Regions from separate parts of the Homo sapiens genome. Here region 2 is reported to be linked to region 1. The links are microRNA targets in miRTarBase. Many come from high-throughput screens and were not tested one by one. Region 1 holds a microRNA gene; the other region holds the end of a gene's coding sequence.

Region 1 (4,380 bases):
CCTCAAGAGCCAGGTCCCATTACTCTATACTTACCCACAAGGAATGGAAAGGCAGGCTTTTTTTTTGTTTTTGTTTCTGTTTTTTGAGACGGAGTTTTGCTCTTGTCGCTCAGGCTGGAGTGCAGTGGCACGATCTCGGCTCACTGCCACCTCCGCCTCCCGGGTTCAAGCGATTCTCCTGCCTCAGCCTCCTGAGTAGCTGGGATTACAGGCGCCCGCCAGCACACCCAGCTAATTTTTTGTATTTTTAGTAGAGACGGGGTTTTGCCATATTGGGCAGGCTGGTCTCTTCACTCCTGACCTCATGCGATCCGCCTCGGCCTCCCAAAATGCTGTGATTACAGGCGTGAGAGCTACCACGCCCGGCAGGAAAGACAGGTTTTAAACAAATGAGCATCAAGAGGACAAAGACTCAGATACTGACATTTAATCAGCTGTTCACTTGTTTCACCTGTCAATTCCAAAATAAGAAAGCCTTTCTATTACAGATTCCATAGTATGCTCAATGACAACACAACACAGAAACACAAGTTGCTGAAGCCAAGACTCTCGTGACTCAAAATGTGTTTATTTTGCTAAAAACAGTGATCTGAGCAACCAGAGATTATAAAGAAGTTCCAATTACGTGAAGTTTCCAGATTCGAAAATCAAGACTACACCATTCAACTCATCAGTAGTCTTTGAGCTAAGAACATCTCACCAAAATCAATGGAAAGACTGCGAAAGATCTCCAGTAAGAAAGGACCAGGAAAGCAATGTCCATATCAGAAAAGGAATGGTTAACGTGAGTCAGACTGTAGTCAAGAAGCTTAAATGATTTCAGCCAACAACAAAGAATCCCACAAAGAAACCATACACTTCCTATAACCAATGTTCCCCAACCCCAGAACAGTTTCCCAAGGTCTTCTATAACAAGAGTTCCTCCTGACTGGTTTGAGTTCTTTCTACTCCAACAGATGATTCTGTTCTTCGTTCACTGAACAACTTAAGAGCTGTTCAACCCCCCAGGTTCCAAAACCTCTCGCAGCTGGGGATCCTTTTAAACATGCACATCACTCAGGAGCCCATGGGGATGAGAGGCATTCACAGAGCATCAGGGAAAATGGAAAGCAACATTTTGCTTAACAGGAGAAACCGCCCCTTATTCATCTTTCTCCCACATCACCTAACTCTAGGGAATGCTTAACGTGGCTTGAAGGAAATGAAGACAGCGACCTAAAAGCACACAGATGCAAGACTTCCAGGAAGAGGTTTTCCCATCCTGCTGGACTCCTGTAGTGTCAGTATTTGGGGCTCCCTCTAATGCTACATTTCTGCTGAGCCTGCAGACATACTTGGAACCCATCACCTTCGGGCTCCCAGACTCAGGCTCCGCACAGCCCGCGAGGGAAACGGTCATGGGCACGCACGGACACGTTTCCATCTTTGCATGTTTATCTACGTCGACTGTGAATTCAAGCAAGTGTGGCCCTCGTGGACAACCTACGAGCCTTAGGGACACAAAAGGCTTCCTGCGCAAACTGCACGGAATCTCCTGACAGGACTTCACGTTAATCATCATTCATAGGTGGGTTCTGGGGCTGGACCCCACGGAACTCCTCTTGGTTGTGTCTTGGACTTCTCACTGCCCCAAAGGAGCCTACTACTGTGGTTTTATGGTCTGAGGAACAGTTAGGCCTCGAAGGCCTGGCCTAGGGAGAGTGCACTCTGCATCCCGAGCTCCCGCCTTCCCCACTCGGCGGCCGGGACCGAGTTTCCCGCCCCACAGCCCGACCAGAGGTTGGTGGCAGTTGGAGGCAGTTGGGACCGGCCCCAGCAGGTTGGAACCGGTCTGGGCCGGGCCGGAGGAGGAAGGGGGGGAGGAAGAGGCCGCCTCGCGCTCTCCCTGCGCGCGTGACTCACGCTGGCCGCTGACGTCAGGCGTGCGCGCGCGGCGGGGGGGGGGGGGCTCTACGTACGTGTAGTGCTGCGGTTTCTCGGGCTGTGCCTGCAGCACCTGAGCGGTAGCGGCCGGGGGCGCCGAGGAAGCTGCGGAGCCGCCGGGCCCGGGGCCCTTCGACATGGTCTTGTCTTCCTGCCTCTTCGCCGCTCCCCTTTTATTATTCAGTCTGCGCGGTCCGCGCCGAGGACCCAGTGCGCCTGCGCCGCGCCACGAGAACGTGAAGACCCCCCACACGGCAGCAGGGGTTGCTGGGAGTTGTGGTTCTATGTCCGGCTGGAATTTTACCGTCGGCAGAGGGTTGCTGGCAAAGCACAGGACCACAATACCCAGGGATCCTTGCTGCTAGTGTCCCGGATGCTGAGGGCCTGCGACGGCTTCTGGGAATTGCAGTCCGGTCGCATTTCTCCTTCTTACCAGCGCGTTTTCAGTTTCATAGGGAAGCCTTTCCATGAAACTGGAGCGCCTGGAGGAGAAGGGGCCCAGAGCTAGGGAGGCCCTAGCGATTTCTGCGAAAGAGTTCCAAGTATAATTTCACTGCCAACAGTGTCATAACTACTTTGCCTTTATACTTAGTACAGCTAGGTTCGGTTCTAATGCCAGCTCAGAGCAGTGCTCCAAGCAGGGCTTAAGAATCTGTGTTGTCGGTTCTTAGTTCTGGGCCCTGTGCTGCAGGCACCTGCAATCCGCCAGCAACCCCTTCATCCCTGCGGCGGGTCTAACCTAAGAGGCATTGAGAAAGCTTTGCTAAGGAGGAGGTACACCGCACGCTACAGTTCCCGCGCCTTTGCCGAGGCGCTTCATTTACCTTTGCCAAACTCGACACCTGGAACTCCACGACTTGTGTGCTTTCTCAGCCTGACACCTGGCCTGACCAACTTGTTTCCAGTACATTAAGGGCCAAGGACGAATTTAATCTCCGCCTAGAATAGTCTCTGAGGTACACTGACAAGTTGCCAGTGTTGAGAAGCATCACAGGGTCCAGAGGAAAGGCCTGGGTTTGAGTAGGGCGTGCCCGTATTTATCCACTCTAGTTTTCTTGTCTGGACGTCAGCCTTTTTACTTGGGACATTATCTTTCCCCTCTCTGCTTCCCACCAGTCAAGCAAAGTTCTTCACTTTATAAAATAAGCCAGATGCCCCAGACCTAGGCATTTGTTTCTGTGAGTTTTAGAATGTTCTCCGTAGATATTTTAACCGTTGTCATTTAATTTGGTTTTTCATATTGAATCTATTTCAAATCCACTGGTTTTGATTTATATTTTCTTAGATGGGATTATATTAACAAATGATTATCTCATTAAAGAAACACATTCCAAATAACCTTAGGGATGAAGGGTGGTGGGGCTAATGGAAAATCGTTAATGTTTGAGTGACACATACTTATTTTATTTAGCTCCAAGTTCCCTCACATCAGAAGCCACATCACAGAGTTGAGAAACTGGTTTTTCCTAAACAGGCTAAATCGTTTAGCCACTAGGGGCGTTTGAAAATGAAAAATTACAAAAGGACAAATAAAAGTTGTAGTATATTGCTTTAATCCTATGATTAAACGCAAGTTACTTGGTTTATGTTAGCCTCACAATACTCAAGTGTGATCTGACTGAAGAAATAGAGTTCACAGCACTGGATTTTAAATAATAGATGTATATCATGAGCTTCAGAATAAGTGTGTACTGGTGGAGTTGGGAGATGATATCATCCAAACTGCTTAATTTACAAAAGAGGAAACCGAAACCCAGAGAAGCTAAGTAACTTGCACAAAGTTACTCAGCAAGTTGGTAACAAGAGGAACTAGGACAGTAGCCTACAAGACTACATCACATTCACTGTTGGGTTTTGTTTGTTTTGTTTTCTTCTGCTTTTTTTCATTGTATAAACATTTTTTATTCTTCCTCATTTCCTGTGTTGCTTTTCCTCCGTTGTACCAATCTGGAAAAAGTGAAACATACCTGCATGACTACGAAGTAAGAGAGACAGCCTTTTTTTTTTTTTTTTTTTTTTTTTTTTGAGGCAGAGTCTTGCTCTGTTGCCCAGGCTGGAGTGCAGTGGTGTGATTTCGGCTCACTGCAACCTCTGCCTCCCAGGTTCAAGCAATTCTCCTGCCTCAGCCTCCTGAGTAGCTGGGATTACAGGTGTGTGCCACCACGCCCACCTGATTTTTGTAGTTTTAGTAGAGACGTGGTTTCACCATGTTGGTCAGGCTGGTCTCGAACTCCTGACCTCACGATCCACCCTCCTCAGCCTCCCAAGAGCTGGGATTACAGGCGTGAGCCACTGCGCCCGGACTCCTGTTTCCACGAATCATACTTAAATGGATAAATGTATATCCATACCTTTTTTCTCCGGGTGGCTTTAGTTTCTAATAATCAGCAAAGCTGGAAAGAAAATGACTGTCCATCCACACAAAGGCATGGAAATGACAGGATTCTGTATAACCTA
Region 2 (4,380 bases), not on the chromosome of region 1:
GGCCCGTCTGGGTTATCCTAGGGCTGTGATGGGCATGTCCAGGCCACTCCGTGCATCTGCCCGGAACCCCAGTGTCCAGTGCTTTGCAGATGGGAGATGGAAGGTCAGAGACCTGAGCCTCCAGGGCAACAGGAGGGCCACTGTGGGGAGTCCCTGGATGGTGATGTAGGCCTCCAGCCAGGGCCGTCCACCAGCGCGACTGACCTTGGATGAGAAACTCCATTCATGAGCCCCCACTTCCACAGCTGGGGCTGACAGTATGGGCCATGTAGCCCTGCATGGACAGTCAACAGAAAACCTACGTGCAGCTCTTGGCCAGCACCCACTGCCCATAGTATGTCCGCAAACAGCAGATTGGTGCTGGGGACAAACCACTCACAGGCACATCCCTTCTGCAGTGGCCATTCTGCTCCCTGCCCTGAACGCCCGACCAGGGCAATCAGGCACACCGGCTGCCACCCCAGGCCACTGCACCAACTCCTGGAGGTCGGTGCTGTAGCTGACTTATCCAAGGAAAGTGAGGCACAGCAAGACTGAGGTCCCATGGCTTATAGGTGGCAGCCCTCTGCCTCCCTGAGGCTTGCTCTTGACTTTCCAAATTTGGCCTTGCTTATCCCTTGCATAATCTAAAAGAGCAGCTTATTTTTATAGAAATAGTGGGTGGCAGACAGCACGGAAAAGTGGAGAGTTCTGCCCTGCCTGATGCCCCACCCCTGCCCCTTCACCCCACCCTTCCCACATACCACATGGTTGTTACTAAGTCGGCTTTGTAACAACCAGGGCAGCCCAGATGCTCTGGTCCCATGCCCCACTCTCCATTCTGTGACCTGCTGTGGATCCTTTTCCCAGAGCTGTGGGATGGAAATCTCCCCCGCAGCCCTCAGCTCCTCCCAAGCCCACTTTAATAATTAAATACCAAAGGAAGGAGGAGGAAAGTGGAGGAGAGCGGGCAGTTCCCGCTCATCTCATCATCTGTGCAGTCTCCCTCCATTAGCACAGAGAGCGAGGTGGTCCAGGGAGGTGTGGGAATCCTGGGGCTTTGCGGGGGGATGGAGGGGAAGAAAGCTTGTTCCCTAGCAAGACTGCAAACACCTGCACCTGAGAAGGGCCACGGGTTGGGGGAGGCCTAGTTCCTGGGGTTCACCTCTGCCCCTCCCGCCTTAGGATCCATCAGGGCAGATGCCTCCTCCTAGAGTCGGACCCAGCCTATTCCTGACCTCCAGGCCCTGCTACTGCGTGAGGCTGTCCACCCCCTCACCGGCCCTGGCTCTGAGCTGTTGCAGCAGCATCCAGGCAGGGAGGCCCCTTCCTTCTAGGTCAGCAGCTCCCCACGAGGACTCAGGGCTGGAGTCCTGGGGTGGGGACTCCTAAGGAAGAGATGAATTCCCAGGAACTGGGATGCTCTGGGCCCTGAGGAGGAGCCAGGACCCCAGATGGACCCCCCACCCAGCTGCCTTCAGGAGAGGGACGTGCTTCTGCCCACTTGTGTAGCTAGGATGCCCGTGCTGGTGGGAGCTTTCGCCACTGGACGAGGTCCTAGCCCTGCCTCCTGGTGTGTCTGCTCAAGGCCCCACCTGGCTTCTCTGAGTCGCTGGAAATGACCTGTTGGACATGGTGGTCTCCAGCTCTGCTCTTCTGGGATCCTCTGACCAGCGCTGGGGAGGGTGGGACTTGGAGGATGGCAGAGCTCGTTCTGGGCACTGGGAGGGAGCGGGTGGGGACATGCAACCTTCATCACCTAGAGGTCCTGGAACTACGACATCTGGGCCACATGAGATCCCCTCTTTTCCTAGAGCGGTGGTCTTGCTGAGAGGACCTGACCAGGATTGTTAGAAAGGGGAGCATGGAGGAGCAGTGGGCTGAGGAGCAGGGGCAGGAGGGCAGTGGAGGTCAGGTTGGCCGGGCAGTGGATCATCAGGGACACAGAACTGGGGGGTCAGCCCACTGAGGGCTGGACCACTTCACCAGGGGCAGGCTGAGCAGGCTCCAGGGCCTGCAGTTAGAAGGCCACGTTCCAGGTGGCTGGGTGCGTGAACCTGGTGGTACTGCCCACGCCTCTACTCATTCCCACCTGGAGCTCGGAGTGCTGCCCGCCTGCCTGCTCCTGGCTCTGCTCTGCAGACGAGGGGCCCAACTCTGTCAGCCACGTTTCCTGACTGGGGGCACCAACACCTCTGCCATGATCTCTCTCCATGGGACCATGGGGTGAGCAGGCTTGCCTTAAGGCTTGTCTCAAAGGAGCCAGGGTCCTAGGTTGCACACCAGGAACCCAGGATGGGGCCCTTCTGGGGGCTGACCAGAGGCAAAAGGGCCAGGCAGGAACCCTTCTAGCGTGGCGCTGGCTGGGCTGTCATCTTGGGAGGGCTCCCAGCCTATCGCTGGGTTGTAGAGAGATGTCTGGGCACTGGGAGGCTGGCTCAGGGATCTCAAGACAGAGAGGGGCATCCTGAACGGGGGCAACAGGAGGAGAGGCAGCAATCCACTCCACGGAGCCTCCGGTGGACACAGGCAGGACCATGGTGGCCGGCCCAGAGCCTGGCATGGAGGAGGTGAGAGCTGTGGCTCCCAGAGGCCGTGGGGGCCTCCGAGCTGAGAAGGGGCACTGGGATACGCCGGCACAGGACAGCCTGGCTGACCACGGCTCCCTCTGGCAGGGAGTGGACAAGCCACAGGAGCGGGAACACGGGTGTGTGCAGACCCAGCCCCAGGAGGAGGCCTGAGAGCAGAGGCAAAGAGCAAAGTGTGCGGGAGAGCTGGCGGGGGGTGCCACCCGTCCCGGGACTCTGTGCCCTTGGGCGTCCTCACTGTCGGAAACAGAGACCCAGGGTAGGACTGTGGGCATGAAGCCTTCCTGGCTGCAAGTTATAAAATGTTTATTGATATACATTTTGTCTTTTATAAAACTTCCGTTGGCCACATTGGGCCACTGTGCACCACAGTGCCAGTCCCCAGGTGGCCAGGGCGGAGCCAGTGTCCACTTTCGGGTGGGGGCTGGAGCCAAGAGGCTGTCCAGGAGCTGCCCAGTGGGTCCTCATGGCCTGCGGGATACCTCAAGTGCTCCCGGAGGCAGCCTAGGACTGGCTCGTCCCGGAGTCAGAAAAGGCAGGTCAACTACCCAAGGCGGCCAAAGGCCCTTCCTGTCTCCAGAGCCTTGACATAACCAGAAATCCCCCCATCAAAGTCACCAAATGACTCGACGGGGGGAAGGGAGGTTGTTTGCAGAAAGACTTAGCTACAAGGCATGTGAACCAGAACTTTCTTCCAGACACCATTTCCTTCACATTTGCTCACTGATAATGCCTTAAGAGGATCGAATCTCTGGAACAGCCCTGAATGGCAGGGATGAGGCTGCTGGCCTGGTGCTGGCTGGGACACAGTCAAGGAGGGCTGACCCAAGAGGCAGAGGTGGCTAGGCTGGGTGTTGACCTCCTCTCTTTTACCAACCAGCCTAGGGCAAGGAGGGGCCCCACCACCTGGGGGCAACTTCTGTACAAGAGGTCTCTAGGGGAGCAGAATGGGTGGGGGAGCCGGGCAGGGGCCACAGGGTCTGTTTGCTGGTGGCTGCCCAGTCTCCCAGCCACCCCTGGAGTCCCCAGCCCAGGGAGAAGGAGGCCCGAGGAGAGGAAACAGATCTTTCTTCTCCTGTATGGACTCAGAAGCAGGTGCCCATTCCTGTCCCAAGGCGAAGGGTCTTGGAGGCCGCTTCCTGCCCCTGCCTCCTCCAGGCGCTGGAGTCTCAGGAGGCGTTCCCCGGGGGACACTGCATCTCCATGGTGACTGTGTTGGGCGTGCTGCCCCCGGCCTCCCCCAGCTCAGCGCCGTCCCGCAGGGCCCGCTGGAAGACCACCCTGAGCGGCTCCCACAGCCGCTGCGACTTGTCCCTCCCGGCCAGGAAGTAGACGATGGGCTTGGCGCTGCTGTTGATGCAGATGCACAGGTCAGTGACGTACTCGGGGAAGGGGGCCGGGATCTGGAAGACCCAGAAGAGGAACCAGTCGATCCCTAAGTAGATGGAGGACACCAGGAAGACGGAGACCATGGCCAGGATGACGTGGTTGAGCTTGGCAGAGCGCTGGCGCCGTCGGGCCCGGCACTCCACGTGCAGGATGAGGGCCAGGCAGGGCAGCACCATGAGCGGGCAGCAGAGCAGGAACAGGAGGATGCCCAGGAAGATGTCCATGTGCCTGCAGGCCGCGCCGGGGGCCCCGCGGCCCAGGAACACGCAGAAGTAGTTGTGCAGGCAGGTGACCAGGAGGGACAGGACCCACAGCAGGGCGCACACCACGGCCGACAGGCGCTTGGGCCGCCGGCGCCAGTACCAGGCGGGGAAGATGACCGAGGCGCAGCGCTCGGCGCTGACGGCCGGCAGGAGGCTCACGC

What was found. The annotated mature microRNA hsa-miR-4738-5p reads ACCAGCGCGUUUUCAGUUUCAU and lies in region 1 at 2,355-2,376, shown strand. An mRNA with a match to its seed (bases 2 to 7 or 8) in the 3' UTR can be bound and repressed. Matches are read on the target gene's strand: a 7mer-m8 pairs with bases 2 to 8, a 7mer-A1 pairs with bases 2 to 7 and ends in A, and an 8mer does both.
Region 2: the mRNA of MRGPRF is a reported target of hsa-miR-4738-5p. The part of its 3' UTR that is shown has no 7-base or 8-base seed match.

What each region holds. Positions count from the first base shown.
Region 1 is chr17:75,782,563-75,786,942 of GRCh38, reverse strand. It overlaps MIR4738 (microRNA 4738), which reads left to right and starts at 2,336; the gene lies at 2,336-2,422. It overlaps UNK (unk zinc finger), which reads right to left and starts at 2,137. Exons shown (of 16, transcript NM_001080419.3): 1 at 1,959-2,137. The coding sequence starts at 2,062. RefSeq lists enhancers at 887-1,464, 1,476-1,875, 1,465-2,043, 3,606-3,785 and a silencer at 1,936-2,075.
Region 2 is chr11:69,001,542-69,005,921 of GRCh38, forward strand. MRGPRF (MAS related GPR family member F) reads right to left here. Exons shown (of 3, transcript NM_145015.5): 3 at 2,857-4,380. The coding sequence ends at 3,737. Among named protein-coding and RNA genes, the nearest start is that of MRGPRF-AS1, 8.6 kb to the right of the region's middle. RefSeq lists enhancers at 869-1,369, 2,330-2,831.